Linked DNA regions of Homo sapiens. The protein of the gene in region 3 interacts with the protein of the main gene of each other region in a biochemical or structural test. Each region holds a gene or a part of one and is shown on either strand. Other genes may lie near its edges. The genes, in order: UBE2O, UBE2G2 and UBA6.

Region 1 (10,302 bases), on a different chromosome or scaffold from region 3:
GGGCATGTGGGCGCATTGGCATCTCAGAATCGCAACTTTTTGGTACTCACTGTGTCCCCTGGTGGAGACCAAACCTCTGTTCTCTGTTTTAGGTGCTCCATGAACACGGAAGATGGCGCCAAGCTCTACGACGTCTGCCCGCACGTCAGCGACTCGGTAGTGTGCTCCATCCAGGCCAGCACCCTTCTCTGATTGCTCAGTCCTCTGGAAGGAGGACTTCGTAGCAAAGACCTGGACCCAGCTAAACAGAGCGGTTTCCTAGAAAAGGGGCGGGTGCGCGCCAGAGGGTCTAAAAGTTTGGGTATAGGCAGAAAGTATTAGAACTTTTTTTTTTTTTTTTTTTTTTGAGACAGAGTCTCACTGTCGCCCAGGCTGGAGTGCAACGGTGCGATCTCGGCTCACTGCAACCTCCACCTCCCGGGTTCAAGTGATTCTTTGGCCTCAGCCTCCCGAGTAGCTGGGATTACAGGCGTGTGCCACCACACCCGTCTAATTTTTGTATTTTTAGTGGAGATGAGGTTTCACCATGTTGGCCAGGCTGGTCTCGAACTCTTGACCTCGGGTGATCTGCCCACAGCCTCCCAAAGTGCTGGGATTACAGGCGTGAGCCACCGCGCCCGGCAGTATTAGAACTTTTATTTGCATTTTTGGTAGCTTTTTTTTCTCATCCTTTAAGGTTCCACTTTGTCTCTCTCAGTACAGGATGATGTGTTAGTTACAATAGTACATGGACACACACAGCAAACAAGTAGATATACAGGGGGTGCGTGAGCAAACAGGTTTCAGGACCACTGCTCTCTGGAGTCTTATTCCTCAGAGTATGAGCCCTTGACCAAGGAGCATGGAATGCATCACCTATGTTTGAACAAGGGCGCCAGATGACCTCTGCGGACCCAGGGTTTGGGAAGTGCTGATGTGGAGCCACAGGACTTGTTTTAGGGCGTGTGGGGCGTGTGTGTGAGTGGGCTTCTGCAGGTGGGCAGCCAGCGGGCACAGGCGTGGAGAGCATGGTCACCCATGGAGACACCGCTCACGGGGACTTTCCTTTGGCCCCACATCCCGCAGGGTCTCTTCTTCGATGATTCCTATGGCTTCTACCCAGGCCAGGTGCTCATTGGCCCTGCCAAGATCTTCTCCAGCGTCCAGTGGCTGTCAGGTGTCAAGCCCGTGCTCAGCACCAAGAGCAAGTTCCGAGTGGTGGTGGAAGAGGTGGGTCCGGGCCCAAGGGTAGGAGATGGAGTCCTTGACCTCCACACCCTGGAGCTGAGCTGCTGCCCCTTTCCTTCCTGCTCTTGAGGGTTGAGCCCCGCTCCTCAGCATCTGGACCCTGTTGATCTCAAAGGGCTTTGGGGATAAAGGGAACCCAGGCTCTGGTCATAGTGACCAAAAGACAGATGTGCCCCAGCCCAGCCTGTACAGGCTGAGCAAGGTGGGAGGGTGGCAAGTGGCAGTTCCAGTGGCCCCTGGCTGGTATGAGCAGTGACACTGGTCCTGGGCATTGGGTGGGGGCCGTGGTTACAGTTGGGGCCTGCTCTGATGTGTCTGTACTTGGTGCTGCACTAGGAAGATCAGTTTCCTGCTCTGGAGGTCAAGTGGGCTTTGGGCAGCTGGCTAAAGAGAGTGCTGTCAGAGCCTGCCCTGACTGGCGTGTCCCACCTGCCATCCCCAGGTGCAGGTTGTAGAGTTGAAAGTTACATGGATTACCAAGAGTTTCTGTCCAGGGGGCACGGACAGCGTCAGCCCCCCACCCTCTGTCATCACCCAGGAAAACCTAGGCAGGTAAGCATGCCCTTACTGCCAGCAACCCAGGGGCACGCGTGGGACAGGGCTCTGGGCCCTGGTCACATGCCTGGGGAGGCTTAAGAACACTGCTGGCCTCCCAGGAGTCCAGCCCAGCTCACCCCCACTTCTTCCCCAACCAGGGTGAAGCGTCTCGGATGCTTTGACCATGCTCAGCGGCAGCTTGGGGAGCGCTGTCTGTATGTCTTCCCAGCCAAGGTAGAGCCAGCCAAGATTGCCTGGGAATGTCCAGAAAAAAACTGCGCCCAGGGGGAGGGCTCTATGGCCAAGAAGGTATGTCCTTGGGGTTGGGGATTGGTGGGCATTTGAGGAACTGGCCTTGAGCCATTTCCATGGCCAAGAAGGACAGTCTGTGCTTTAGGCCTTGGGGGGCAGCCCTGATGACCCTTGCCGGCTACTCAGGTGTATACAGCTGTCATCCCCCCAGCCTGAGATGCCTAGGGCCAGGCCTGCCCAGGTGCACCTCACAGCCCTGTCCTCTCTGCTCCGCCCTTGCAGGTGAAGCGCCTGTTGAAGAAGCAGGTTGTGCGGATCATGTCATGCTCCCCAGACACCCAGTGTTCCCGGGACCATTCCATGGAAGACCCAGACAAGAAGGGGGAATCCAAAACCAAGAGCGAAGCGGAGTCTGCCAGCCCTGAGGAGACGCCCGATGGCTCTGCCAGTCCAGTGGAGATGCAGGACGAGGGTGCAGAGGAGCCCCACGAGGCAGGAGAGCAGCTGCCCCCATTCCTGCTAAAAGAAGGCAGAGATGACAGGCTGCACTCGGCAGAGCAGGACGCAGATGATGAGGCTGCTGATGACACGGACGACACCAGTTCGGTGACCTCCTCTGCCAGCTCCACCACTTCCTCCCAGAGCGGCAGCGGCACGAGTCGCAAAAAGAGCATCCCCTTGTCCATCAAGAACTTAAAGCGCAAACACAAGAGGAAGAAGAATAAAATCACTCGAGACTTCAAGCCAGGGGACAGGTAAACTCAGAGTTGTGCCCCTCCCCAATGGCGTCAGCGTGAAGCCAGGCAGAGTGCGCGTCCCCTCGGTGTGCGTGCCTGCGCTCGCACACACACCTCTGCATGCCTTGTAGTGGCTCCGGGGCTCCCACCCGAGACAACGTAGGTGCCTGGGGTAGGCCCTGGTGGAAAGCAGAGACTGAGGAGTGGTGCAGAGGGTGGGATGGTGGTGGCCTTAAGCTTGGCCTTCTGGAACCACATTTGCCTGAGCTCTCCCAAGTGGATCCTGTTCTCAGAGAATGCGTGGCCTTGGAACCCTGGGTGAGCTTCCTGTGCACCAGAGACTCATCCTGCCAACCTGGGATTCAGAGTTTCAGGTTACCAAGCCCACAGGGACAGGAAGGGACAGAAAGACTCTCTGCCCTTTCCGCGGAGGGGGTGGGGTTTGCATGGCCTGCTGACTGGCCTGCACCCGCAGGGTGGCAGTGGAGGTGGTGACCACGATGACCTCAGCCGACGTGATGTGGCAGGATGGCTCCGTGGAATGCAACATCCGCTCCAACGACCTCTTCCCTGTGCACCACCTGGACAACAACGAGTTCTGCCCTGGAGACTTCGTGGTAGATAAGCGAGGTAGTGCCAGCTCTGGAAGGGCAGCCAGCAGGGTGGTCGCCAATGAGGGCCCGGGTTGGGGCTTGTGGAGAATGGGCAGTGGATCTGGGGTCAGAGCTAAAATGAGGTCCAGAAGGGGACTGCCCTCATGAAGGGGTCTCACCACTTCCAAGACGGGGGAAGGTCAGGGTTCTGCACTCTGCACTGGCTTGAGATGTGGGCTCCTTAGCCGGGATCCCTTAGCTAGTCACTTCCCTTTCTCTGGTTCCCTAGTCCAGAGCTGTCCAGACCCTGCTGTCTACGGTGTGGTACAGTCTGGGGACCACATCGGCCGTACCTGCATGGTGAAGTGGTTCAAGCTGAGGCCGAGTGGGGACGACGTGGAGGTGTGTGCAGCCCCTACTGCTTGCTTCAGGTGGGCTCTGGGGTTGGGTGTAGGACCCCTAGCTCATGACAACCTGTCCTGTGCCACAGCTGATTGGAGAAGAGGAAGATGTGAGTGTTTACGACATTGCTGACCACCCTGACTTTAGGTTCCGTACAACTGACATCGTCATCCGCATCGGCAATACTGAGGATGGGGCTCCTCACAAGGAGGATGAGGTACGCCTTCAAATTCAAGTTCTGGATGGCTGCTCACTGCCCTGTGCACCAGCTGCAGTCCCTGATGCTGCCACCAGGTGGCTCTAGGAGACAAGACCTGAAAGTCCTCTGGGCTCAGTGTCCTCAGAAGGGCAGCTGCCCCAGAGTCAAGCTGCCGCTCAGCACTAGCAGCTGCAGAAGGACTTGTTTCCCTGCCTCCCTTCTGGGGTCAGGCTTCTTGAGCTGCCGCTGGTTACATTTACCAGAGGAGCTAAGTTCCTTGTCACAAGCCAGGTGGGCATGATGTCAGTCACTGCAGAGCACAGGAGGGGCTGGGGAGCTGGAGCTTGAGCTGGGCCCCCTGACTTTGTCCCCTTTGCCCAGCAGCCATCGGTGGGCCAGGTGGCCCGTGTGGACGTCAGCAGCAAGGTGGAGGTGGTGTGGGCTGACAACTCAAAGACCATCATCCTGCCCCAGGTGAGGCTCTGGCAAGACCCCCCTGCTGAGCTTGTGACTATGGCAACTTGGGCCGGGGGCCACAGGCGTGTAGCCAGAAGATGGGCTCTCAGGTCTTCCTGGTGAGATCTCAGCGAAAGCGTGAGGGGAAAGGCAGGCATTCCACACAGCCCTTGGTGCAGGCCTGCAGTTGGCCCACCAGCCTCGCTTCTCCCAGCAATCTCTTCACGTCCATCTCTGGGTGCATGTAGACTTTCACAAACCTCCAGGATTTTCCTGGATTGTCAGCTCACTATGCTACGAAGAATGCAAGTTCCCTCCTAAAAGGAGATGGAGACTTTCCTACCACCCTTTTTAGAAAGCTCTAACAGAGAAGGAGAGAAAGGAGAGAGCCGACCCAGTTCTAGCCCCACCTGCTGGGTCCTGAGCAGAAGGGCTACACGGGCTCTCCTTCCCTCGCCTCCTGGTTGGAGCCACACAGCCCAGCTCTCCTCTCCTGGTCCACACAGGGGGCAGGAGTGGGGGCGGGAATGGCTTGCCCCATCACCTTAACGGCCATTCCAGGGAACGCAGCAGGATATGTCGGCCCTTCTACATGTCCCCTCTTGTCATATGTTCCCAGCTCCCCACACAGGCCTCCTTGGCTGCATCATTAGCTGACCCTGCGCTTTTCAGGTGTGGGACTGGGCCTGCCAAGGTCCCCTAACGCCTTGGACAGATGCTGACGAAGTGCACAGAGCAGGAGGAGAGGCTGGAACAGACCACTGGCTGGGGCTTTGGGTCCAGCTGGAGGGTGGGACAGGTGAAGGGCCTCTCCCAGAGACCTAGGGACTGCAAAAGCCAGAGCAGAGGTCAGGGAAAGGGTGGAATGAGGTTGCCAAGGCCTCATGAGCCCAGTCGCCATCAGCTGTGCGGATCAGGGATCCCCAGAGCTCCTCCTTAGTGGTGGGGAGGTGACTTCCTGTCTGCTTACCCTGGCACTTCCCTTCTGCCCCCAGCACTTGTACAACATAGAGTCTGAGATTGAGGAGTCAGACTACGATTCGGTAGAAGGCAGCACCAGCGGGGCATCCTCGGATGAATGGGAAGATGATAGTGACAGCTGGGAGACGGACAATGGGCTGGTGGAGGACGAGCACCCCAAGATAGAGGAGCCCCCCATCCCACCCCTGGAGCAGCCGGTGGCCCCTGAGGACAAGGGAGTGGTGATCAGTGAAGAGGCAGCCACAGCTGCCGTCCAGGGGGCTGTGGCCATGGCTGCCCCCATGGCCGGGCTGATGGAGAAGGCTGGCAAGGACGGGCCACCCAAGAGCTTCCGGGAGTTGAAAGAGGCCATCAAGATCCTGGAGAGCCTCAAGAACATGACTGTGGAGCAGCTGCTGACGGGCTCGCCCACCTCTCCGACTGTGGAGCCTGAGAAGCCAACTCGGGAGAAGAAGTTTCTGGATGACATCAAGAAGCTACAGGAAAACCTCAAGAAGACCCTGGACAATGTGGCCATTGTAGAGGAGGAGAAGATGGAAGCAGTGCCCGACGTAGAGCGCAAGGAGGACAAGCCCGAGGGGCAGTCACCTGTGAAGGCTGAGTGGCCCAGCGAAACCCCGGTGCTGTGCCAGCAGTGTGGCGGCAAGCCTGGCGTCACCTTCACCAGCGCCAAGGGCGAGGTCTTCTCCGTACTGGAGTTTGCACCCTGTGAGTCAGCCCTTGCCTGGTCTTCGCCTTCCCCCGCCTTCTCGGGGCTCCTGTTTGTGTCACCAGATCTGGGTGCAGGGTGGTTAGTCCCCTCGCCAGACCCCAGCTACTGCCCCAGGGCAAACCATTTCCCTGTGTGGTCACAGTGCTGAGGCCAGCAGCGGCGAGTGGGAAGTCTGTGGGTGTGCTCACCTGTCCAGCCAGGTTGGCAGATGGAGCTCCAGGGCCTCTCCATGAGGGACTGACTATTCTCTTCCCCCCTCTAGCAAATCATTCTTTTAAGAAAATTGAGTTCCAGCCTCCAGAAGCCAAGAAGTTCTTCAGCACAGTGCGGAAGGAGATGGCGCTGCTGGCTACCTCACTGCCTGAGGGCATCATGGTCAAGACTTTTGAAGATAGAATGGCAAGTAGGCTTGGCATGGGCAGGTGCAGATGTGCTGTGTGGGCACCCAGTGCCCAAGAGGCCACCAACCTTGGGTCCCCAAACCTCCGGGGCTGACTGGCACCTGCGAGGACACTCACCCACCCACCTTTTACAGGGGCGGTCACAGGCTCAGTCAGGTGAGGGCTGACTCAGCCGTGTGTCCAGGCCAGATGGTTCTTTCTTTCCTCCCTCCTTTAAAAAATTACTTTCTCGGCCGGGCGCAGTGGCTCACACCCGTAATCCCAGCACTTTGGGAGGCCGAGGTGGGTGGATCACGAGGTCAGGAGATCGAGACCATCCTGGCTAACACAGTGAAACCCCGTCTCCACTAAAAAAAAAAAAAAAATTACAAAAAACTCTCCCGCCACCATGCGGGCGCCTGTAGTCCCAGCTACTCTGGAGGCTGAGGCAGGAGAATGGCGTGAACCTGGGAGGTGGAGCTTGCAGTGAGCCGAGATCACGCCACTGCACTCCAGCCTGGGTGACAGAGCGAGATTCTGTCTCAAAAAAAAAAATTACTTTGAAATAGGCCGGGTGCGGTGGCTCACGACTGTAATCCCAGCACTTCGGGAAGCCGAGGCAGGTGGATCACCTGAGGTCAGAAGTTTGAGACCAGCCTGACCAACCCGGTGAAACCCTGTCTCTACTAAAAATACAAAAATTAGCCGGATGTGGTGGCGGGTGCCAGTAATCCCAGCTACTCGGGAGACTGAGGCAGGAGAATCACTTGAACCTGGGAGGCAGAGGTTGTAGTGAGCCAAGATCGCACCATTGCACTCCAGCCTGGGCAACAGAGCGAGACTTCATCTCAAAAAAAAAAAAATTACTTTGAAATTAATTATATTATGATTACTCCTCAAGCCTACTTTTCTTTTTGAAAAATTAGAACATTACAGATCCTTTGAGTGGAAATGGAAGAGCTAAAGTTGCCTTTGACCAGACCTCACTTCCCTTTCTCCCCGAATCATAGGCCTCTTCCCACACCCAGAGGATTGTTGGAAGTTTAGTGGGTCTCCTTCCAAACGGATGACCTTTTTTTTATACTTTTACATTATTTATACACTAAAAAAATATTTTTACATTTTCATGTATCACCATAAGTACATAATATTTTGTATGATTTGTTTACACACAGAATATGTCGTCGTACACATCATCTCTAATTTGCTTAAGACCAACCTGTGTTGATTCATAATGATCTAGTTTCTTCCTTTTTACCTGCAAAATAGGATGACAGCATGTGGCCACACCACATTCCATTTTCCCACTCCTCTGTTCGTGGACGGGGCCTAGTGTCTCTGAGTCATGTTTACTGAGGCAGCGCTGAGTGCATCCTTCCGGAACAGGCAAGCCCGTTTGCCTGCCACCTTGTTGACTCCGCAGTCCCTTACTGGGCCTGTGCATCGAGCCAAGCACTATGCTAGACTCTGAATCTGAGTCTGAGGCCCCAGTTCTGGCCCTGTCCTGGAAGGAAGGGAGTAAGAAAAGAAAGAGCAGGGATCCTGAGAGCAGCCAAGCGATCCTGAGAGCAGCCAAGCGGGATGCTGTTGAGATGGGCCCGGAGTAGCCACAACCCTGGAACAGGGCTAGGCAGAGTCCTAAGGCCCAGTGCTGCTTGAGATTCTTAATAACGCTTTTGGTTTTTTCTTGGGTTGTAGGAAAATTCCTTTTGAAAATTCTAGCCTGTCTCAGCTCTGCTGAGGGAAGATGGAAACAGTATTTTTTGTTTTGTTCTGTTTTCCCCACATCTCACTCAGGAGAAGAAAAGTAGTGCATTCCCTGGAGGCTCCCAGGGTGGCACCGATAAGAGCATGTGCAGAGGTTCCCTCGCCCCAGCTAGCGCTCTGCCTTCCCTGCTTCTCAGCTCATCACTGACCTCGCCCATTGCCCTGTCAGTTGAGATCCCACACACACGCGTGTGTGCACAGATGCACGCAAATAGATGCACAGATTCCAGATGTCTGTGGAGCGGTGGTCTCCCAACCTCCCCCATGGAGTTCAAACCCTCACTGTCAGCTTCTGGTTGTGAGACCATCCCCCCTTCCCCAGGCCTCACCAGCCTGGAACTGCCTTTCAGCTTGAAACTGCTTGTACTACTTGCCTTGTTGGGGATAAGGGTTGGAGCAGGTGTTTAGAGGAATTGTTTTGTTTTGTTTTTAAAAGACAGGGTTGGCCGGGCGTGGTGGCTCACGCCTGTAATCCCAGCACTTTGGGAGGCCAAGGTGGGCGGATCACAAGGTCAGGAGTTCGAGACCAGCCTGACCAACATGGTGAAACCCCGTCTCTATTAAAATACAAAAAATTAGCCGGGCGTGAGGAGACTGAAGCAGAGAATCGCTTGAACCTGGGAGGCAGAGGTTGCAGTGAGCCAAGATCACACCACTGCACTCCAGCCTGGGGACAGAGCTATACTCCATCTCAAAAAAACACATAAGCCAAAAAATAAAAGACAGGGTCTCACTCTGTCGCCCAGGCTGGAGTGCAGTGGTGTGATCATAGCTCACTGCAGCCTCAGCCTCCTGGAGTCAAGTGATCCTCCCATCTAAGCTTTTTGAGTAGCTGGGACTGTAGGTATGCACCACCATGCCCAGCTAATTTTTTATTTTTTGTAGAGATAGGGTCCCACTATGTTGCCCAGGTTGGTTTTGACCTCCTGGCCTCAAGCAGTCCTCCCACCTTGGCCTCCCAAAAGTGCTGGGATTACAGGTGTGAGCCATCACGTCTGGCTGAGGAATACAATCTTTTTTTTTTTTTGAGATAGCGTCGCACTGTCACCCAGGCTAGAGTTCAATGGCACAATCTCGGCTCACTGCAACCTCCGCCTCCGGGTTGAAGCAATTCTCCCACCTCAGCCTCCCGAGTAGCTGGGACTGCAGGCATGCATCACCACGCCTGGCTAATTTTTGTATTTTTAGTAGAGACGGGGTTTCACCACGTTGGCCAGACTGCTCTTGAACTCCTGACCTTAAGTGATCCACCCGTCTCGGCCTCCCAAAGTGCTGGGATTACAGGCACGAACCACCGCGCCCAGCTGGAATACAGTCTTAAAGTAATGATTTATGAGGAAAAACACCTGATAAGATAAAAACTCACTTCGAGTATTTCTCTTAGCCAGGGTTCAATGATTCCAGGCAAGGGCCAGGCACAGTGACGGCTCAGGGCTGTAAACCCAGCACTTTGGGAGGCCGAGGCAGGCGGATCACTTGAGCCCAGGAGTTCGAGACCAACCTAGGCAACATAGTGAAACCCTGTCTGTACACAAAATAAAAAAATCATCTGGGCACGGTGGCCCACACTGTAGTCCCGGCTACTTGGGAGGCTGCAGTGAGCCATTATTGCACTAGTGTACTCCAGCCTGGGGGACACAGCAAGACCCTGTCTCAAAAAAAAAAGATTCCAGGCTGTTCTGCAGAGAGAGATTTGTCCTTAGCTTCTCCACTGCTGGTGGCATCTGGAGTCCCAGGTGCTGCTCTTCCTGCGTGATCTGCACAGTGTCCTGGGAAAGAGCAGGTGCAGATGCAGATGCCACATGTAGGACACCCCCTTCCACCCCTGCCAACCTTGGCCTCCCTCCCTCCCTCCCTACCTAGGACCTCTTCTCAGCTCTCATCAAGGGCCCCACTCGAACCCCCTACGAGGATGGCCTCTACTTGTTTGACATCCAGCTCCCCAACATCTACCCAGCCGTGCCCCCCCACTTCTGCTACCTCTCCCAATGCAGTGGCCGCCTGAACCCCAACCTGTATGACAATGGGAAGGTGTGTGTCAGCCTCCTGGGCACCTGGA
Region 2 (10,302 bases), on a different chromosome or scaffold from region 3:
CTGCAGTTTCCTTGTCTTAAAAGGTTAAACTTGATACTGCAGGTGAAGTGCTTAGCAAAATACCTGATGTGTAACCCTTAATAAAGTTAGCTGCTGCTTTTGTAATTAGATTGAGGATAATTTTGGAAGAAAGTTAAGCTAAAAGAATGAATGTGAGAAAAAAAATAAGTGGTGAATATACATGTAGCTTGATTTCGTAAAACTATTGGTGACACCGCCCAGTAAGAGTTGATGTTTGGCTTAAGCAGACCAAAACGTTGCAAATACAGGCTCACTCACGTATGGTCATTCTTCCCTTGGTATCTGGAGGGGATTGGTTCCAGGCCCCGCTGCAGATACCAGAATCCTCGGATGCTCAAGTCCCTACTATAAGGTGGCGTGGTATTTGCATTTAATGTATGCATAGCCTCTCATAACTTTTAAATCATCTCAAGGTTACTTATAGTACCTAATGCAATGTAAGTGCTGCACAAATAGTTACACTGATTTTTTTTACTTGTATTTTTAAATCGTCATTTTTTATTGTTATTTTTTTCAAATATTTTGTATTCCTGGTTGGTCGAATCCATGGATATGCAGCCGCAGATACACAGGGCCTCCTGTAAACGTTCAAATAACGCTCGCCACCTAGTGTCTGCTAAAGCAGAACATAAAGGCACACCTCAGTTTCCCGCGCGCTTTGCTTTATTGAGCTTCACTTCGCAGATCTTGCATTTTTTACAAGTTTACAAGTTTTTTACAAGCAACCCTGCATGGAAGCAAGTCTGTTGGCACCATTTTTGCTCGCTTCGTGTCTCTCTCTTACATTTTAATCTATTACTGTGATCTATGATCAGTAATCTTTGATGTTACTATTGTAATTATTTTGGGGCATCACAAACTATGCCCATAAAAGATGGTAGTCCTAATAAATGTTGTGTGTGCTTCACTGACTGGCTGTTTCCCCATCTCTCTCCCGGCCTCTCTCTTCCCTGAGACAAAACAACATTGAAATTAGGCCAATAGTAACTGTACAGTGGGCTCAAGTGTTGAAGTGAAGAGTTGCACTCTACCCACTTCAAATCAAAAGCTAGAAATGATTAAGTTTAGTGAGGAAGGAATGTTGAAAGTCAAGATAGGCTGAAAGCTGGGTCTCTTGTTAGCCAAGTTGTGAATGCAAAGGAAAAGTTCTTAAAGGAAATTAGAAGTGCTGCTCTGTTGAACACAATGAATGATAAAGTGAAAAAGCCTTACTGCTGATATGGAGAAAGTTTTAGTGGTTTGGATAGAAGATCAAACCAGCCATAACATTCCTTTAAGCCAAAGCCTAATCCAGAGCAAGGTCCTAACTCTTCAGTTTTATGAAGGCTGAGAGCAGTGAGGAAGCTGCAGAAGAAAAATTGGGAGCTAACAGAGGTTGGTTCATGAGATTGAAGTAAATAACCTGTCTCCATAACAGAAAAGCACAAGGTGAAGCAGCAAGGTCTCCAGAAGATCTAGCTAAGATCAAGATGAAAGTGGCTCCTAAATTAAGCAATAGATTTACAAGGTACGTAAAATAGCCTTATACGGTATTGGGAGGAGATGATGCCATATACAACGTAAACAGCTAGAGAGAAGTCAATGACTGGCTTCAAAGGACAGGGCGACTCTTGTTAGGGGCTAATGTCGGTCACTTTAAGTTGACTGAGTTGAAGCCAGTTCTCATTTATCATTCAGAAAATCTTAGGGCCCTTAAAAATTATGCTAAATCTACTCTGAGCTCTAGAGATGGAAAAACAACCTGGATGACAGCACATCTGTGTACAGCATGGTTTACTGAATATAAGCCCACTGTTGAGACCTACTGCTCAGAAAAAAAGATTATCTTCAAAATACTATTCCTGACAGTGCACCTGGTCACTCAAGAGCTCTGATGGAGAGGTATAAGGAGATAAATGTTTTTGTGCCTGCTAACACAACACCAATTCTGCAGCCCATGGATCCGGGAGCACTTTTGACTTATTTAAGAAATACATTTCATAAGGCCATAGCTGCCATGAAAAGTGATTTCTTTGATGGATCTGGGCAAAGAAAATCAAAAGTCTTCTGGAAAGGATTTATCATTCTAGATGGCATTAAGAACATCTGTGATTCATGGGAGGTCACCATATCAACAACAGGCGTTTGAAAAAGTTGATTTCAATGCTCATGGATGACTTTAAGGGGAGGAAGCAACTGCAGGTGTGGTAGAAATGGCAAGGGAACTGGAATTAGAGGTGGAGCCTGAAGATGTCACTCAGTTGCTACAATCTCATGATCAAACTTGAACAGATGGGGAGTTGAGTCTTACAGATGAGCAAAGAAGTGATTCTTGAGATGGAATCTACTCCTGGTGAAAATGCTGTGAACATTGTTGAAATGACAAAAGATTGAGACTATTCCATAAATTTAGTTGATAAAGCAGCCGCAGGGTTTGAGGGTATTGACTCCAGTTTTGACTGAAGTTCCACTGTGGGTAAAGTGCTGTCAAACAACATCACAGACTACAGAGCAATCTTTTGTGAAAGTAAGAGTCAGTCCCTGTGGCAAACTTAATTGTTGTCTTATTTTCAGAAACTACCACAGCCACTCCTGCCTTCAGCAACTACCACCCTGATCAGTCAGCAGTCATCAATATCCGGGCAAGACTGCACCGGCAAAAAGATTATGACCTGCTGAAGGCTCATATGATTGTTAGCATTTTTTAGCAATAAAAATTAAGCATATTTTGGCAAATAATAATTATTTATTTATTTATTTTTTGAGACAGGGTCTTGCTCTGTCACCCAGGTTGGAGTGCAGTGGCACAACCACAGCTCATTGCAAGCCTTGACCTGGGCTCAAGCTATCCTTTCACTTAATCCACCTGAGTAGCTGAGACTACAGGCATGTGCCCCTACACCTGGCTGATTTTTCTGTCTTCATCTTGACCTCCCTCTATGTTGTCAGGGTTTGGCGAAAGTGACTCCATTTTGATTCTGACAATGTTCATACTCGAACAGAGGGTTGGATGTGGGGGACTATTACTTCTGTGTCCTCATGGGAAACCTGGCTGGTGGGTCAGATGTGTGAACACCTACCATTTCTTGGTATCCTGGTTTGTGTTTGTGTCTCTGTTTTAGTTTTATTTTAGCCCTATTTCTAGGGTTAGGCTAGACTGTGAGCAGGTATTTTCTCTTTTTTTTTTTTTTTTTTTTTTTTTTTGAGACGGAGTTTTGCTCTGTCGCCCAGGCTGGAGTGCAGTGGCGCAATCTTGACTCACTGCAGGCTCCGCCTCCCGGGTTCATGCCATTCTCCTGCCTCAGCCTCCCGTGTAGCTGGGACTACAGGCGCGCGCCACCATGCCCGGCTAATTTTTGTATTGTTAGTAGAGACGGGGTTTCACCGTGTTAGCCAGGATGGTCTCGATCTCCTGACCTCGTGATCCGCCAGCCTCGGCCTCCCAAAGTGCTGGGATTACAGGCGTGAGCCACCACGCCCGGCCTTCTCATTTTTATTGAGAAGAAAATCATTAAACCCCTGCATAGGAAATTAAGTTCAGGCTGCTGCTTCAGGCCAGTCTTTGCATTGTTGAACTTGCATTTTCTAAGGATATTTGCATTAGCAAAGATATGTTCTCCCTTTTATTGTCCTGACAGAAGCTTCATCTGTTATTTCAATTATATTGTCAATTAGTTTGCAGTAATAAGACCTAAATAATGGTTGATTTCCGAAGGTTTGTCACGGAAGTGTGTTGTGTGTTTTTACATGTTAACATGAAATTTTGGACTATGTGTAGAAGGTAGAACTCTAAACATACCTCACTAAGATTCCCATGCCCTTGTTATTCAAGCACTTTCTAGTACTTCGGTGGAGGGACTTTGGAGATGCAAGTCAGGTTAGTAATCAGCAGACCTAAAGAGTGGGAGATTATTCTGGATTACCGTGAAGGATCCAATAATAACATAAGGCTCAAAAGCAGTCAGTGAAGGCAGGATGGGGGTGGTCAGAGAGATTCAACATATGACAAGATCTCTACCTTCTGTGGCTGGCTGTGAAGATGGAAGAAGGAGCCATGACCTAAGGAAGGCGGGCAGCCTCAAGAAGCTGAGAATGATCCCAGACCAACAGACCCGTGGAAGTGAATTCTGTCAGCAACCTCAATGAACTTGGAGTGGCAGCCCTGGTGAGACTCTGAGCAGAGAACTAGCTGGCCCATGCTGTGTCCAGACTTCTGACGCTTGGAAACTCTGAGATCATCAATGAGTATTGTTTTAAATCACTAAATTTGTGGTAATTTGTTACAGCAGTGACAGAAGATGAATACAGTGTGTTATTGAGGGGACTTTGTTTTTCCTGTATCTTAATAATGTGATAAAATTTAGTGGGTTTTTTTTGTGTATCATTTACTGGTTTTTTTTGTGTGTGTATCTTAACATCTAGTTTGTCCTCATAACGTATTTTAAGGTAGCACATTCCAGTGTAAAGGTGGACTTGACAGAATCAATCTCTACATAGAAGGGGTTTAGATAAATTTGGTTAGATGTTCATGCACACTTTATTGTATTTGGGAGTAGTCATATAACTGCAGAAATTCAGAGGTGGTGGGACCTTGGCTATGATTCTGTTCAAGCCCCCTAATTTTACAGATTTTATGGAATTGAGCAACAGACAAGATGATTTTGCCTAGGTTCATAAACAGGAAAAAAGGAGAGCCAGGAAAGAACTCAATTGTTGTAAACTGCTGTCTTGTCTTGATGTTCTGTCTTCATTCATCATCCAGCCTTTCCTAGGAGTGTCAGAGATAGACCCAGGTAGAAGTGGGCTGCCCATGGGGGGCTTAGCACAACAGAAATTTATTCTTTTACTGTTCTGGAGGCCAGACATCTAAAATAAAGGTGTTGATGGGGTCATTCTTCCTCTTGAGGGCTCGAGGGGAGAACCCTTACTTGCCTCTTCCAGCTAATGGTGATTGTTGGTCATCCTTGGCGTTTATTGTCATTCTCTTGCTTGAGGTAGTGTAATTCTAATCTCTGCCTCCATCTTCGCATGGCCATCTTCCCCCTGTGTGCATGTCCTAAATGTACATGTCTTTCTGTGGATATATGCTTTTATTTCTCCTGTGTAAATAACCAGGGTTATAATGGGAAGTGTGTGTTTAATTTTTAAAGAAACGGCCAGTTTTCCTCTAGTTCACATTTCCCTAGCAGTGTATTAAGTGTTCCCGTTGCCCCACCTCCTTGCTGACACTTCGCGTGGCCAGTTGTTTTTTGTTTTCTTTTTTCTTTCTTTCTTTCTTTTTTTTTTTGAGACAGGTTCTCACTCTGTCACTCGGGCTAGAGTGCAGTGGTGTAGTCATGGCTCATGGCAGCCTCTGCCTCCTAGGCTCAAGCAATCCTGCCACCTCAGCCTCCCAAGAAGCTGGGATTACAGTTGCATGCCACCTCGCTTAGCTAATTTTTGTATTTTTAGTAGAGATAGGGTTTCGCCATGTTGCCCAGGCTTGTCTCGAACTCGTGGGCCCAAGCAATCTGCCCGTCTTGGCCTTCCAAAGTGTTGGAATTACAACTGCGAGCCACTGCGCCCTTCCAGTTTTAAAAATTTTAGCCATTCTATTGGGTGTATAGCAGTCTTACTGAGGTTTTGTTTTATTTATTTATTTTTTTTTATTTTTTATTTTTGAGGTGCTCTCTCTGTCATCCAGGCTGGAGTGCAGTGGCATGATCTCAGCTCACTGCAACATCTGCCTCCTGGCTTCAAGTAATTCTCCTGCCTCAGCTTCCCAAGTAGCTGGGGCTATAGGCGCGTGCCACCACACCTGGCTAATTTTTGTATTTTTAGTAGAAACGGGATTTCACTATGTTGGCTAGGCTGGTCTCTAACTCCTGACCTCAGGAGTTTGCCTCGCCTCCCAAAGTGCTGGGATTTACGGGCATGAGCCACAGCCCCCGGCCCTTACTGAGGTTTTCATTTGCATTTCCATAAGACTCGTGATGTTGAGCATCATTTCACGTGTTTATTTGCCATCCATATGTCTTTTTAGATAAAGTGACTTGAGTCTTTGCTTCTTTCAAAATTGTGTTGATTTTCTTAAGTTTTAGTTCTTTGGCTGGGCGCAGTGGCTCACGCCTGTAATCCCAGCACTTTGTGGGCTGAGGTGGGCGGATCACGAGGTCAGGAGATGGAGACCATCCGGGCTAACACGGTGAAACCCCCTCTCTACTAAAAATACAAAAAATTAGCTGGGCATGGTGGCGGACCCCTGTAGTCCCAGCTACTCAGGAGGCTGAGGCAGGAGAATGGCGTGAACTTGGGAGGTGGAGCTTGCAGTGAGCCGAGATCACGCCACTGCACTCCAGCCTGGGTGACAGAGCGAGACTCCGTCTCAAAAAAAAAAAAAAACAAAAAAAGAAGGGTTTTTATTATTTCGATGAAATTCAATTATTGACTTTTAAAATATTTCTTGCTATTGTGTTATATTTAAGAAATAACTGCCAAACATCAGGTGGCAGTAGGATTTTCTCCTATGATTTCTTCTAGATGTTTTATAGTTTCAGCTCTTGTATTTAGGTTTGGGATCCATATCAAAGTTTTCCATATGGTATGAGATAAAGGCCAAGGTTTATTTGTAAATTATTTGTAAATGGCAGTGCAGTTGTTTCAGCACTGTGTTTGCTAGGGCTGCTCTACCACACAGGCTGGGCACGGCTTAAACAACAGAAATGTATTTCCTCATAGTCCTGGAGGCTGGAAGTCCAAGATCAAGGATAGGGCAGGGCTGGTTTCTTCTGAGGCTCTGTCCTCTATGCCTGTGTCCTCATCTCTTCTTAAAAGGATATTAGTCAGATTGGATTAAGGTCCACCCTAATGACCACATTAATTTTAATTACCTCTTAAAGGCCCTAGTCACACACTTTTCTCCACCTTCTTTTTTTTCATGTAATATGTCCTGAAGTTTGTTCTGTACTAGCATGTAGAGGTATTTATAGCTGCAAAGTACCCCACTGGTATATGTATCATAATTTGACTGGTCCTCTGTTGATAGACACTCAAGTTCTTTTTAATTTCTTTTTGTTTTTACAAATAGTCCTGAAATGAATAGCCTGTGTATACATTTTTTATCTTCACCAATGTTATCTGTGGGATGGATTCCTAGAAATGGAATTGCTGGGTCAAAGGTTATATTTCACTTTGTGTGGTAGCTATTTGTTAAGCCACTATTTTAAGTGGCAAGGAATGGCCTCTGAAAATTTCCCTGATACCAAGATTCGTCTCTTTTTTTGAACTTGTTTCTTATCAGTAAACATGAAACTGTATATTATTTTGTGTACGCGTGTATATGCTTTGGAAGCAAAAAACAAAATGGAAAAAATAAGTGCCCTGAACCATTCCCTCCAGCCTCTGAACTCATTTGCTGCACTTCTTTATTGACCAGTAGAGGCCACTGTTGAATAACAAAGCTGGCGGGAAGGCCAGCGCACACCCGGGCAGGTCTCTGTGCTGAGCCTGCATTGCCAGGAGCAGGTCTGGAGCTGCAGTTTTTAGACCACCCTTTCCCCTCCCTAAGGGAGGGTGTCACGCAGGGGAGTGCCAAAGGGGAACTCCAGATGAAGAATAAAGCCAGCTCTCTTTGGTACGAGCTCTTCTTCATGGTCCCACGAAGGTGATTTGTAAAGCTTTTGTGTGTTCTGCTGCCAGGCCTCTACTTAGTTGCCCACTGACATTGTGTTTCTCCCGCACCCCACCTGCTTAGCAGTTTACAGTCTATCTGCCGTAATCTGTTATTTTTTTCTTATAATTAGGCGGTTTGGCTTGAGACACAAGAATGGGACTAGATTTTAGATGACTGGGTGTAGGAAGCCTAGCAAATTAGGTTCTGTGGTTATTTCTCCTGATCTACTCCACATGAAGAGACACAAAGGGAGAACATCAGGGTGTGGCTTGTGAAATCCAAGGTCTTAGTCGGCTTGGTACTTGACCTCATTCACATTCAGTTCCCACCCACCCCTGAAATGTTTAATGCACTTGGCCCTTGGGGCCAGCACTTGCCTTTGGCCTGCCTTGCTGGCCCCTCCTTGCCACTCTGCCTTCTCTCACTGCTGGGTGTCAGCACACCCTTGTGACAGCACTTAGGTCTCTTCAGGACCTCTGTTTCCTGGATCAGGGCTTCTCAGCAGGTGTTAGTGGTATTTTGAGTGAAATAATTTTTCCTTGGGTAGGCCTTGTTCTACCCAAGGTTGTGGGTTCATTAAACGGTTAATCGGTACATTAGTCCGTTCTTATACTGCCATAAAGATACTACCTGAGACTGGGTAATTATAAAGGAAAGAGGTTTAGTTGACTCACAGTTCTGCATAACTGACGAGGCCTCAGGAAACTTATAGTCATGGCAGAAAGGGAAACAGACCTCTTCTCAAGGCGGTAGGAGAGAGAAGAGCAAGCCAAGGAAGAACTTGCCACACACTTATAGAACCATCATGTCTCCTGAGAACTCGCTATCACGAGAACAGCATGAGGGAAACTGCCCCCATGATCCAGTCACCTCCTACCAGGTTCCTCGCTCAACACTTTGGGGATTACAAGTCAAGGTGAGATTCGGGTAGGGACACAAAGCCAAACCATGTCATTTCTCCCCCTACCCCTCCCAAATCTCATGTTCCTTTCAAAACCATTCCATTTCAAAACAAATCATGCCTTCCCAGCAAGGCCCCCAAAGTCTTAACTCATTTCGTCATTAACTCAAAAGTCCAAGTCCAAAGTCTCATCTCTGACAAGGTAAGTCCCCTCTGCCTAGCAGCCTGTAAAATCAAAAGCAAGTTAGTTACTTTCAAGATACAATGGAAATACAGGCATTGGATAAATACTCCCATTACCAATGGAAGAAATTGGCCAAAACAAAGGGCTACAGGCCCCCATGCAAGTCCGAAATCCGGCTGGGCAGTCATTAAATCTTAAAGCTCAAAATGGTCTCCTTTGTGACCCCGTGTCTCACATCCAGGGCACACTGATACAGGGAGTGGCTTTCATGGTCTTGGGCAGCTCTGCCCCTGTGGCTTTGTAGGGTACAGCCCTCCCACACCCACCCCCTTCAGCTACTTTCATGGTGGGCATTGAGTGTCTTTGGCTTTTCTAGGTGCACAGTGCAAAGCTCTTGGTGGATCTACCGTTCTGGGGTCTGGAGGATGGTTGTTCTCTTCTCACAGCTCCACTAGGCAGTGCCCCAGTGGGGACTCTGGGAGCTCCAACCCCACATTTCCCTTCTGCAATGCCCTAGCAGATGTTCTCCATGAGGGCCCTGCCCCTGCAGCAGATTTCTGTCTGGACATCCAGGCGTTTCCCTACATCCTCTGAAATGTAGGTGAAGGTTCCCAAACGTCAGTTATTGAATTCTTTGCACCCACAGGCCCAACACCACGTGGAAGCTGCCAAGGCTTGGGGTTTGTACTCTCTGAAGCAACAGCCTGAGCTGTACCTTGGCCCTTTTTAGCCATGGCTGGAGCTGGAACAGCTGGGACACAGGGCACCAAGTACCAAGGCTGCACAGAGTAGCAGCGGGGCTGGGCCTGGCCCACAAAACCATTTTTCCCTCCTAGGCCTCCCTGCTTGTGATGGGAGGGGCTGCTGCCAAGATCTCTGACATGCTCTGGAGACATTTACCCCATTGTCTTGGCGATTAATATTTGGCTCCTTGTTACTTATTTGAATTTCTCTCCAGAAAATGGGTTTTTCTTTTTTATTGCACCGTCATGCTGCGAAGTTTTCAAACTTTTATTCCCTGCTTTCTTTTAAACACGAGTTCCAATTTCAGATCATCTCTCTCAAGTTCAAAGTTCCACAGATCTCTAGGGCAGGGGCAAAATCTCACCATTCTCTTTGTTGAAACATAGCAAGGGTGACCATTGCTCCAGTTCCCAAGAAGTTCCTCTTCTCTTTTTCAGACCACCTCAGCCTGGGCTTCATTGTCCATGTCACTATCAGCATTTTGGTCAAAAGCATTCAGCAAGTCTCTAGGAAGTTCCAGACTTTCCCACATCTTCCTTCTTCTAAGCCCTTCAAACTGTTCCAACCTCTGCCTACTACCCAGTTCTGAAGTTGCTTCCACATTTTCAGGTTATCTTTATAGCAGTACCCCTGGTACCAATTTACTGTATTCATCTGTTTTCACACTCCTATAAGAACTTCCCTGAGACTGGATAATTTATAAAGGAAAGAGGTTTAATTGACTCACAGTTCCACATGGCTAGGGAGGCCTCAGGAAACTTATCATGACAGAAGCCGAAGGGGAAGCAAGCACCTTCTTCACAAGGTGGCAAGAAAGAAGAG
Region 3 (10,302 bases):
CCATTTACTTTCCGTCATTGTATCCTCAGTGCCCAACATATGATGTCATTTAGTAAATATTCCTTAAATAAGTAGATGAATGAATGACTATAAATGTGTTCACCTTACATCTTTATATGACTCCTCAATGTTAGGGTGTAGAGCAGATATATTAACAGGGGAGAATTTATCAGTTGAAAAATGTGAAAAGTATGTAATCTTGGGCCAAAGAGGGGAAGAAAATAAAACTTTAAAAAATAAAAATTTGTAGAATATAGGTATTGTAAGTGTTGAGAAAGAAGATTAATATTATTTGGGATAAAGAAAATATTGAGAAGAGATAGTGTGGTAGAACTTGTAGTTAGAAAATAACCAAAGAAGAAATATAAAGCAAGGGAAAAGGAGTAATATTGTTAGGAATTAACCTAGAGATAAAGGTTAAGAAAGCCCCAGATTTAGGGTACTACTAGATGTATATGTATATTGCAGAATAGGGGAACAGGAATGATCCACTGTTTGATAGTAGTATATCTGTTTTCCTAAAATACTGCATTCAAGAAGTGATCAGTATGTGAAATGGTCAATAGAAAGTTGTAGGTTGTCCTTTGGTTACATTGTTATTGCTCACTTTTTTGTTTTTTACTTGCTGTCTTTTCAAATAGTCGTTGCTTAGCAAATCTAAGGCCTCTTTTAGATTCTGGAACAATGGGCACTAAGGGACACACTGAAGTTATTGTACCGCATTTGACTGAGTCTTACAATAGTCATGTAAGTGAATCAATATTTTGAAATAGATGTCTTTTTTATATCTTGTAATTTTTGTCTTAATCAACAATTTGATTTAGCTTTCCTAATCCTTCTGATTTTGCTCTGCCAATGATGTTCATACATATGTGCATGTACATTTTTTAAAATATAATTGAACTTTTTTTTAATTATCAGAATTTTGTGTCTGGTGTTTCTGGAGCATTATTCTTCTGTTTACTATTTATTTCTCAGAGCTGCTTAGTTTTCTAATACCCTTTGAGTTTAAGATTGTTTGATAAGAACAAACTATTAGATTGAGACTAGAACTGTCAACAAAGACATAAAATTTTATTCACTTGCTGAGACAAAGTGAGTCATTTTAGATTAGGTAAACCAATAAACCTAGGCAAAATGTACTCTATAATAGAATGTGGATTTCTTCAATGGTACTTTATCCACAAAAAACGACTTAGGTATTTACCATTTATTTAATACATGCTTTCTGCAAGAAACCTCAAGCATTGAGGACATATTTCTGCTCCCAGATGTTTTTCTCCATGGAAAAACTCATGCTTTTCTGAGCACTATACTGGGTATTCCTGAATTACTTTTCAAAGCGGGGCAGTGTTATAAAACTTTAAATGTCACCTTGATTCATGAGGAAAAAAATGATTTATAGATGATGGTGTGTCATGAGTACTACATGGTGCTTTAAATGAGTACACAAATAATAAATAAGATTCATGTTTGGCATTACATAGCTATTAACAAATAGGTTAAATGTCAAAAGAATTAACTTCTCTTATTGCCTAAGAGAGAGAAGATATAAAAATGTCTGGTTGGATTTTATTTATTTTTGGATTTTTAATAGGCTTAAAGCTCAAAACTAGATTAAATCAATAAAAATTGGTCATTGCTTCCCCTTAAGTACCTGTTGTCATATTTTATAAATTAGCGGGATCCCCCAGAAGAGGAAATACCATTTTGTACTCTAAAATCCTTTCCAGCTGCTATTGAACATACCATACAGTGGGCAAGAGATAAGGTAAAAGTTCCTTTTTAAATTTATTTTCTTTGAAGTGAGAAAGAAGATATTTCTGACTTTAAACAGACTTCTATTTGTAATTTTTTTTTTCTTTTCTCTGTTACAGTTTGAAAGTTCCTTTTCCCACAAACCTTCATTGTTTAACAAATTTTGGCAAACCTATTCATCTGCAGAAGAAGTCTTACAGGTAAAAATCAGTAAATTTTAATACAAACTTAACACTTTGTGTCAGTGTAATCTTATTTTCAAGTCATCTACAAGTGATTTATTTTACCTCCATAAAGAGTGATTGTATATAAAAAATGAAATGATACATAAGGAATCTTGAAATTAGGTCACAAATTATCATTTTGGTTGTTTGAACTACATGGAATTGTCGATATTTGAGCATGTTCGACTCACAAAACAGCAATTCGTATGGTGCGAGCTAATAAAGATATGATAATTATGATAGAAGGGCTACAAATAATAAAAGGGCTTTTATTAAGCCCTTTGGAAAGAAAAAATTGAGGTAAGTTCTAGTTAAAATTTCATGAGGGAACAATAATCTCCAAGACTTATTACTCTTATAGTGAAGGCAACTTTAAAGATGTTTTCTCACTTTCTTTTAATCTTTTGCTAACAAGGCCCACTTTTTAGTATCAAATATTCATAGCACTTATAGTGAGTACATATATTATAGTACTAATAACTTACAGCTAGGAAAATATGAGGATAACTTGTAAGATAAGAAATCAGAGTTAAAATTTTGTATGCTATCTCTTACCATTCCCCTTCTCAAACAGAAAAGAAAAGAAAGGTTAAAGAAGAAGGAAGGGAAAAGGAGCTTGAGGTGAAAAAAGAAAAGCATAAAACACATGAGTTGACACTTCAAACTTAGGCTAACTTTTGGTGAGGGATGTGTATATGTTTGTAATTGGAAGTATGTTGATTTTTTTTTTCTCTCCCATTCTAGAAGATACAGAGTGGACACAGTTTAGAAGGCTGTTTTCAAGTTATAAAGTTACTTAGCAGAAGACCTAGAAATTGGTCCCAGTGTGTAGAATTAGCAAGATTAAAGTTTGAAAAATATTTTAACCATAAGGTAAGTATGCATTGTGAGACATTAAGAAAAGGTCTGATCTTGGCTTATTTAGTTATTAACAAATTAATTTCATTGACCTGAAATGTGTATTCTTTCTTTTGGCAAGCTTTTCAGAAATTAGTAGTAAGTTAAATGAGAACACATGCTAATCTAAAAGAAGTTTGTTCAGAATAGAAGAAGCAAGAAACTGAGAAAATAGGGACATTTAGTCAGAAATTTTGCTGAGATTTTGCCATTTCCACCCATATCTGATAATCACATTTTATGTCTGTTTCCCCATCTGTAAAATAGAAATAATAAATTTGTACCTAATACATAAGGTAGTGGTAAAGATAAAAGGAGGTAACACAAAGCATTTAGAACAGAGCCTGGCACATAAAAAATTACTAAATATTAGCTGTTATTCTTACCTCCAGTTAAATATAGTTGCTGGAATGTGTGTTGCCTTCTCTTTAGTCTTTCCCTCTCTTTAGGATCTTAAGTTCATCTTCCTTAGAAACAACTTTAAAAAAAAACAAAAAAACAGGGTTTCCCTATGTTTTCCAGTCTGGCCTGGAACTCCTGGGCTCAAGTGATCCCTGCCTCAGCCCTTAAGTAGCTGAGGCTGCATGTGCACGCCACCACACCCCACTTAAAAAATATTTCGTTTATACTTCTTCTTTTTACTTTCAACAGAGCTCTACTTCTTGGAAAAGTGGTCTGTACTACTCAATGTTACCACTTCTTTACCCAGTAAATTTGACTTCTTTGCTCATTACTCTTCAGATTGTTCTTAACATGGTTATCAATGACCCGTTTCAAAAATCTAAGGAACTCTTTAGTTCTTATCTTCTGTGCATTTTTTTTAAACTTTTTTTATAATGAAAAATATTCAGCCATAGAAATGTAGAGGAAATAGTATAATGAACCCTAATGTAATTGTCAATTACCTATCACCCAGGGTTAGCAGTTATCAATTCATAGATAAATCTTGTTTCATCACCATTCCCGTTCATTCTTACCTTCCCCCAGGTGATTTTGAAGCAAATCTCAAACATGTATCAATTTCAAAAATACAAAGTACTGTGTGTTTTTTCTGGTTTTGTTATTTAAGTACTAGCTCTTTAAAAAGAACAGAATGACATGTAAAATATGCCATTTATATAAAAAGGAGTGAAGTAATCTACATTTGTTTGCTGTAGATACCACCTCCCAATAAACCTACAAATAGTGATAGAAAATGATATTTGAATTTTTCATTTATGAGGGACATTGACAGGAGAATGGACAGATGGAATACAAGGGTGGTAGGGAGACTTCACTGTGTCTCTTTTAATGTGTTTTGATTTTTGAATCATGTGCATATATTTACTACACACATTTTTTAATTTTATTTTTTAATTTTTCCTCAGATAATATTAAGTAGTGGGTGTCTTTAATTCATTTTTTTTCTTTAGGCTCTTCAGCTTCTTCACTGTTTCCCTCTGGACATACGATTAAAAGATGGCAGTAAGTATAAATGTTGAGAATAAATTTTAATGACATTTATTACTGGCTACATACATTGAAAATGATATTTGTATCTTTTTGCCAGGTTTATTTTGGCAGTCACCAAAGAGGCCACCCTCTCCAATAAAATTTGATTTAAATGAGCCTTTGTAAGTATTTATATTTAGTTTTATGTATCCTTCATTATATATTTCTTTACTGTAAATTCCTTAACTGTACATTGCAGAGTGAAAACCTTAGGCTCTTTAATGTTAAATTATTTCATCCCTGTTCATTTAAGAGTTAACAAGTCATTCTGACCAAGAAAGCCAGCCACAACCCTTCCCACACAAATGTGAATCCATTCATTTACATGGTAAATAACCTCATTATTTATAATAAATATCTAAGGTGAAACCAAAATCACCTTTTTTACTTTATCCATAAATTAGTAAAATGACAATGTGTTTTTACATTTAATGAAATCAAATATAAGAATCTTCAGTTATATGGAGGAACAAATAATTACTACTGAATAACTCCCTAAATCTCAAATTATTTTCAGAGGAGTTGGTCTTTGTGTGAATACCTGGAAACACTATATTAGATACACATTAGATTCACACTTGTGTGTATATGTATATTTTTTCTATTTTTTTAATTTAGTTTTTATTCTTTGAAAGAGACAAGGTCTCACATATGTGGCCCAGCCTGGTCTTGAACTCCTAGGCTCAAGCAATCCTCGCACCTCAGCTTCCCAAGTAGCTGGGATTACAGGTGCATACCACCACACCCAACCTTATGTATATATATTTTTAAACACTTAGCTTGCATTCACTAACCTTCCTTTCAGCAGATAACTCTATGCTTAATTTTCTCATCTGGTGGTGGTTTTAGGCTTCCAGTCACCTTATGCTGGACTGCTTCTTCTATAAGACTTTCTTTTTTTGTTTTTAAATAAACACATTTACTTAGTTTGAACTTGATATATACTCATTAAGACCAAATGTATAATATTTCTTATGACTTAAAATGAATTATTGTTCACTGGTCTGAGTTTTCTGGTTCTGTCCACTCACTCCTCTTCCCAAGGTAGTCATGATCACTACCTGAATGTTAAGTGTTTTTGAGAATAACTGTTTGATGTTTTGTCTTTTATAACTTCTGTAGTGTTTTGGTGTAGACCAGAATATTTTTGTCTAACTTAAAAAAAAAAACTTGAAATAATAATTCTGTGGTTATATTTCTTCAAACTACATTTAAAGGCTATAGTTCATAATGAGTTAAATATCGTCTTTAAAACTGTACATTCAAATTTTGCTTTATTTTTTAATTTCAAAAGGCACCTCAGTTTCCTTCAGAATGCTGCAAAACTATATGCTACAGTATATTGTATTCCATTTGCAGAAGAGGTAAGATATTCTTTAAGCCTTAGCAAGTGATGCAAAACCAAATTAGAATTAGATGACTGATGCACTAATTGCATCAAAACATGTTTGTTTGTTATAAGAATCACTCTTTTTGATACAGAATTTTTATTGTATTTTTACCCATACTAACATAATGGAAGCTAAAAGCTCATTGCAGTATTGCTAAGTAGAAGTCGGATTTTTCCTTCTGAATTGAAGCAGTGAAACAGCATTATTTGTTAAAAGCAGTTAAACTTTGTTTTAAGAATATTTATAACCTGCTTAGCAGCTTCAGTTATCCTAGTTATTCTAAAAAGCCACAGCAAACCATTTCATCGCAATTTTGAAATACTGCGTAGAGATTTTCTTTGTTAACATTTGTTTGTTATTTTGTGATAATTTATGTGCTTTTCAGGAAATCTGAAAATGCTCCCTTATATTGACATTTCTTACTTTAGCATCATACTCATTCTCTTAAACATCATCTTCATTGACTAACATCTAAAGAGCCTCATACGGTTTTGAGAGGCATCTCTTTTCTTCACAAATGCATATTCTAGCTAAGTAAATTGCTGTACTTTTAGGTGGGCTAAATAGAGAAACATGAATCAGATCCCATAATTAACACTGGCTGTTTTGGATTCAGATAACAATATCTGTTTTAGATTAATCCTTTTTGGAATTCATACAAATAAACTGTAAATATTTGGTAAAAATAGTGGCATTCAGTCTGATATTCTTTTTGGGAAAATCAGTGGTAATTTAGTGGTGAGTGTGGTAATTGACCTCAAAAGCACTAAGTCTCAGCCTTTGCCAAGCAACTTCTCAATGACAAATGTAAATACAACCCATAGCTTTAAATTCATATAAGTTCATCTTTAACCATTTAAATATCTCCCTCCTTCTTAAGGTATGAATTCCATTTACTTATTTTACTTATTGAGTATAACTTACTTCAGGGAACTTTGTAAAACATTAAAAACATAAAACATAAAGCTAAGGGAATTAAAACTGACTGATCAAGTCACTCAGTTTTATATTTACAACCAGTCCTAAAAATGCCTTTTAAAAAATTTGCAGAAGGACTAAAATTTCAAGTTTGTTGACTAATAAGTACTTTTTTACCCCTTACCTTCTCCTCCCCCATAACCTTTATGGGGGGATATTTTTATAGAAATAAAGATAAATGTCTCAAATGGATGTCTACATATTCAGATAATGAAATATTCATATATTGTAATATGATTAAGGACCTTTTGTAGGATATTTTTAGCTTTAGAATTTAGAAGAATATGTTTGTTGGTAAAATTACTTTTTTAAAAACAGGACTTATCAGCAGATGCCCTCTTGAATATTCTTTCAGAAGTAAAGATTCAGGAATTCAAGCCTTCCAATAAGGTATGTTTAAAAAATCATTCATTCAGCAAATAGTTTGGGAATTTGGACTTGTACCAAGTCCCATTCTAAACCTGGAGAATATCACAATGAATGGTTCTTGCTCTTGCTCTTGTCAGTGCAACTTGAGTTTGAAGTAGATTTGTCAGAATCACAAACTGTTGATTAATACTAATTTTATTCTAGTGTGGAATTTTAAAAAAGATCAGTATAGACTTAGATTGTATGAGCTACTCAGTTAATATTTTTTTATGCCCACTATATCATTGTGGGTATTAAAAATTAGATATATTGGAGTTCTGTCAGTGAACAAGATACATAAAGATCCCCTGTTGTTATAGAGCTTACATGCCTTTGTGAGAAGATAGATAATAAAATACATACATGAATAACATAATAATACCTTCTGAAGGAATGTATAAAATACATTGGACCAATGTATTTTGGGCGGAGAGGGACTATAAACAAAAATGCTAATAAGTACATAATATTGCAGTGTGAGTGTAAGTGCTAAGAAGGAAAAATACAACAGGGAAAAGAAAGAGTGATGGAGCTGGTATAATTTTATATGGGATGGAAGTGAGGAAAACCTCTGATAACAGTAACATTTTAGCAGAAACCTGAAGGAAGTAAAGGAATAGTGAAAGAGCAATGTAGGCAGCAGAAATAAGTGCAGAGAAAGGCCTTGAAAAGCTTTTAAGGTCAGGACTCGTCTAGAAGAGAATATACAAGGGGAAGAGTCTTAAATGAGGAAATTACAGAGATAGTTGGGGCTATGATAAAGAAAGAATATTTTCTTAGTTGAAATAAGAAGCTAGCTTAGTAGCTCAGAGTGAAGGGGATAAGAAGATAAAGGAAGTAAGAGCAAAGAAAAGAAGGTATGAAATAATTGTCCAGTGAAGTGGAAGAGTCACTTAATTAAAAGATGTAGTAAAACGCAAGACAATACTGAAGATCCACTTAATGTTAATCTGCTTAATGTATCCTACTAAATGTGGCTGGAGAAAGGGTAATGATCTTTTCTCCAGCCAGAATTTAGCTGCTTGGGTGGTATTATACTGTATAATGGATGGAAAATTGGATATAACTAGGGTTGGGATTTTGCCAGGCAAATACATTGAAAAAAAAAAAAAAAAGCAATAGGGAGTATTGGTAAAGATGGAACATGAAATTTAGGCAATGTAAATAAAAAAGTTTGAAAACTTTTTTTTCTTTTTTACATGTTCAGTATATGCCTTTCTTGTATGTTCTCTAAAAATCATCCACAAAATTTAGCTATACCAGAAAAGGTGGAGTAATGACCACCTCCCTGCAAAATTCAAGAAAGAAGTGACGTGTGCAGTCTTTCGTTCTGCGTTTTTATTTTAGGAAAAAAAAAAAAGACTTGTAGGGCAGTTGATTTTGCCCAGGTAGATGGATTTGCAGAACACAATGTTTATGACTTATAGCCTATAAAGAATAAAAATAGGGTGAGGATAAACAGAAATCCCAAAGAAGGTTCCCAGCCCATGTTTCCAAGGGCAAAACTAGAGAGAAGCCAAGGAAAAATGCTTTAACTTTACTTTCCGTTATTGCTCTTGCTTCGGTATGTTTTCTGGCTTGCATTGCTTCTATCTGTGTTAAAGTCTGAGGGTAATAAATTCTCCTGAGCAATTTAACTACAGTTTTAACATGAACTGTGGGCTTTTTCACAACTCCCTAAAGGAGCTCACACCGAAGTTTCAGGTATGGTACTGCTGGTTACAGATGTCACAGCCAAAAATATCAACTAGCCATTCAGACAAACAAAAGTTTCTCCTTCCTGGACTCCTTAATATTTCTTAATTTTTTGTAATAATGTTTAATTTGTAAAACGATGATTTGAGTGTATTTTTAAATAAATATTACTTCATGATAATGAAGCTAATTTCTTGGTTTGAGAATATTAATTTCCGTGCCCTCAGGGAATATCTAATAAGTAATTTCTTAAGGTTAAATTACTTGTGGTATGTACTCCCTTAATCCTACCAAACTTTCTATATGAAAGAAGGCATATTCTTAAGGAAAAAACTTAACAGCAGTCAGTGAATATTTAAAGGATGGCCATATTATATATCTTATGGATTGCTTTAGTTTCCTTGATGTGAAGCAGCTCTGTACTAGTTAGAGCAAAGCAACATGCGTTTAAAGTAGATTTGTCAGAATCACAAAGTGTTGATTAATACTAATTTTATTCTAGTGTGGAATTTTTAAAAAGATCAGTATGGACTTAGATTGTATGAGCTACTCAGTAAATATTTTTTATGCCCACTGTATCATTGTGGGTATTAAAAATTAGATATATTGGAGTTCTGTCAGTGAACAAGATACATAAAGATCCCTGTTGTTATAGAGCTTACATGCCTGTGCGAGAAGATAGATAATAAAATACATACATGAATAACATAATAATACCTTCTAAAGGAACGTATAAAATACATTGGACCAATGATTAATAATCTGATCAAAATATATAGAGAAAATATTTTCTCTTTGTAATTTGATAAAACAGTTAAATGGTAACCAAACAGATGCAGGAAATGATAACATTAATAAAAATATATTCATATATTCAAAGGTTGTTCAAACAGATGAAACTGCAAGGAAACCAGACCATGTTCCTATTAGCAGTGAAGATGAGAGGAATGCAATTTTCCAACTAGAAAAGGCTATTTTATCTAATGAAGCCACCAAAAGTAAGGGAAAATCTTTATAAAAATGTTTTGAACTGGATGAGTTTTTATTTTCACTAAGCTCTACACCTAAGAATTTGTGGAATTTAATCACAACAATAATAATGATGACAATATTGATTGATTTCATGATCATATTAAAGTCAGTGTTCATCTTTAACTGTGACTAAATTCATCATCTTCCCCACTATTGCCCTACTCTCAAAGATTGAAGTCTAATTCTCCAAATCACATTAACTGCATTGTTGTTGTTTTTCTGATTGTTTTAGTTCTTTAGATGGTGAGCAGGTCTAAAACCATGAATGAAAAGCTCTGTTTTTAAGGAATTAAAAATTCAGTTTAATGGGGTCCTTGTGGAAACTAATCTTTGGACAGACCCATTTAAATCACTTTAGGATAAAGAACTATAAACAGAAATATTCTTAGGTTCTTAGTCTTTAGTAATTAGGTTCATAATTACTGACA

Evidence for each region.
Region 1: of the proteins of UBA6 (region 3) and UBE2O, one has a biochemical effect on the other in vitro, tested with the Homo sapiens proteins (one study listed by BioGRID).
Region 2: the proteins of UBA6 (region 3) and UBE2G2 form a complex in vitro, tested with the Homo sapiens proteins (2 studies listed by BioGRID, with this or other methods).

Annotation. Positions count from the first base shown.
Region 1 is NC_000017.11:76,391,918-76,402,219, reverse strand, and holds part of UBE2O ((E3-independent) E2 ubiquitin-conjugating enzyme), read left to right. Parts: intron 1-92; coding exon 93-156; intron 157-1,065; coding exon 1,066-1,209; intron 1,210-1,669; coding exon 1,670-1,779; intron 1,780-1,922; coding exon 1,923-2,073; intron 2,074-2,298; coding exon 2,299-2,771; intron 2,772-3,228; coding exon 3,229-3,383; intron 3,384-3,635; coding exon 3,636-3,748; intron 3,749-3,836; coding exon 3,837-3,965; intron 3,966-4,328; coding exon of another isoform or gene 4,329-4,331; coding exon 4,332-4,421; intron 4,422-5,398; coding exon 5,399-6,092; intron 6,093-6,358; coding exon 6,359-6,495; intron 6,496-10,106; coding exon 10,107-10,302. UniProt on the Homo sapiens protein: E2/E3 hybrid ubiquitin-protein ligase that displays both E2 and E3 ligase activities and mediates monoubiquitination of target proteins. Negatively regulates TRAF6-mediated NF-kappa-B activation independently of its E2 activity.
Region 2 is NC_000021.9:44,790,617-44,800,918, reverse strand, and holds part of UBE2G2 (ubiquitin-conjugating enzyme E2 G2), read left to right. Parts: intron 1-10,302. UniProt on the Homo sapiens protein: Accepts ubiquitin from the E1 complex and catalyzes its covalent attachment to other proteins. In vitro catalyzes 'Lys-48'-linked polyubiquitination. Involved in endoplasmic reticulum-associated degradation (ERAD).
Region 3 is NC_000004.12:67,625,898-67,636,199, reverse strand, and holds part of UBA6 (ubiquitin-like modifier-activating enzyme 6), read left to right. Parts: intron 1-641; coding exon 642-747; intron 748-1,681; coding exon 1,682-1,771; intron 1,772-1,877; coding exon 1,878-1,958; intron 1,959-2,726; coding exon 2,727-2,855; intron 2,856-4,291; coding exon 4,292-4,343; intron 4,344-4,428; coding exon 4,429-4,492; intron 4,493-5,664; coding exon 5,665-5,734; intron 5,735-7,057; coding exon 7,058-7,129; intron 7,130-9,722; coding exon 9,723-9,840; intron 9,841-10,302. UniProt on the Homo sapiens protein: Activates ubiquitin by first adenylating its C-terminal glycine residue with ATP, and thereafter linking this residue to the side chain of a cysteine residue in E1, yielding a ubiquitin-E1 thioester and free AMP.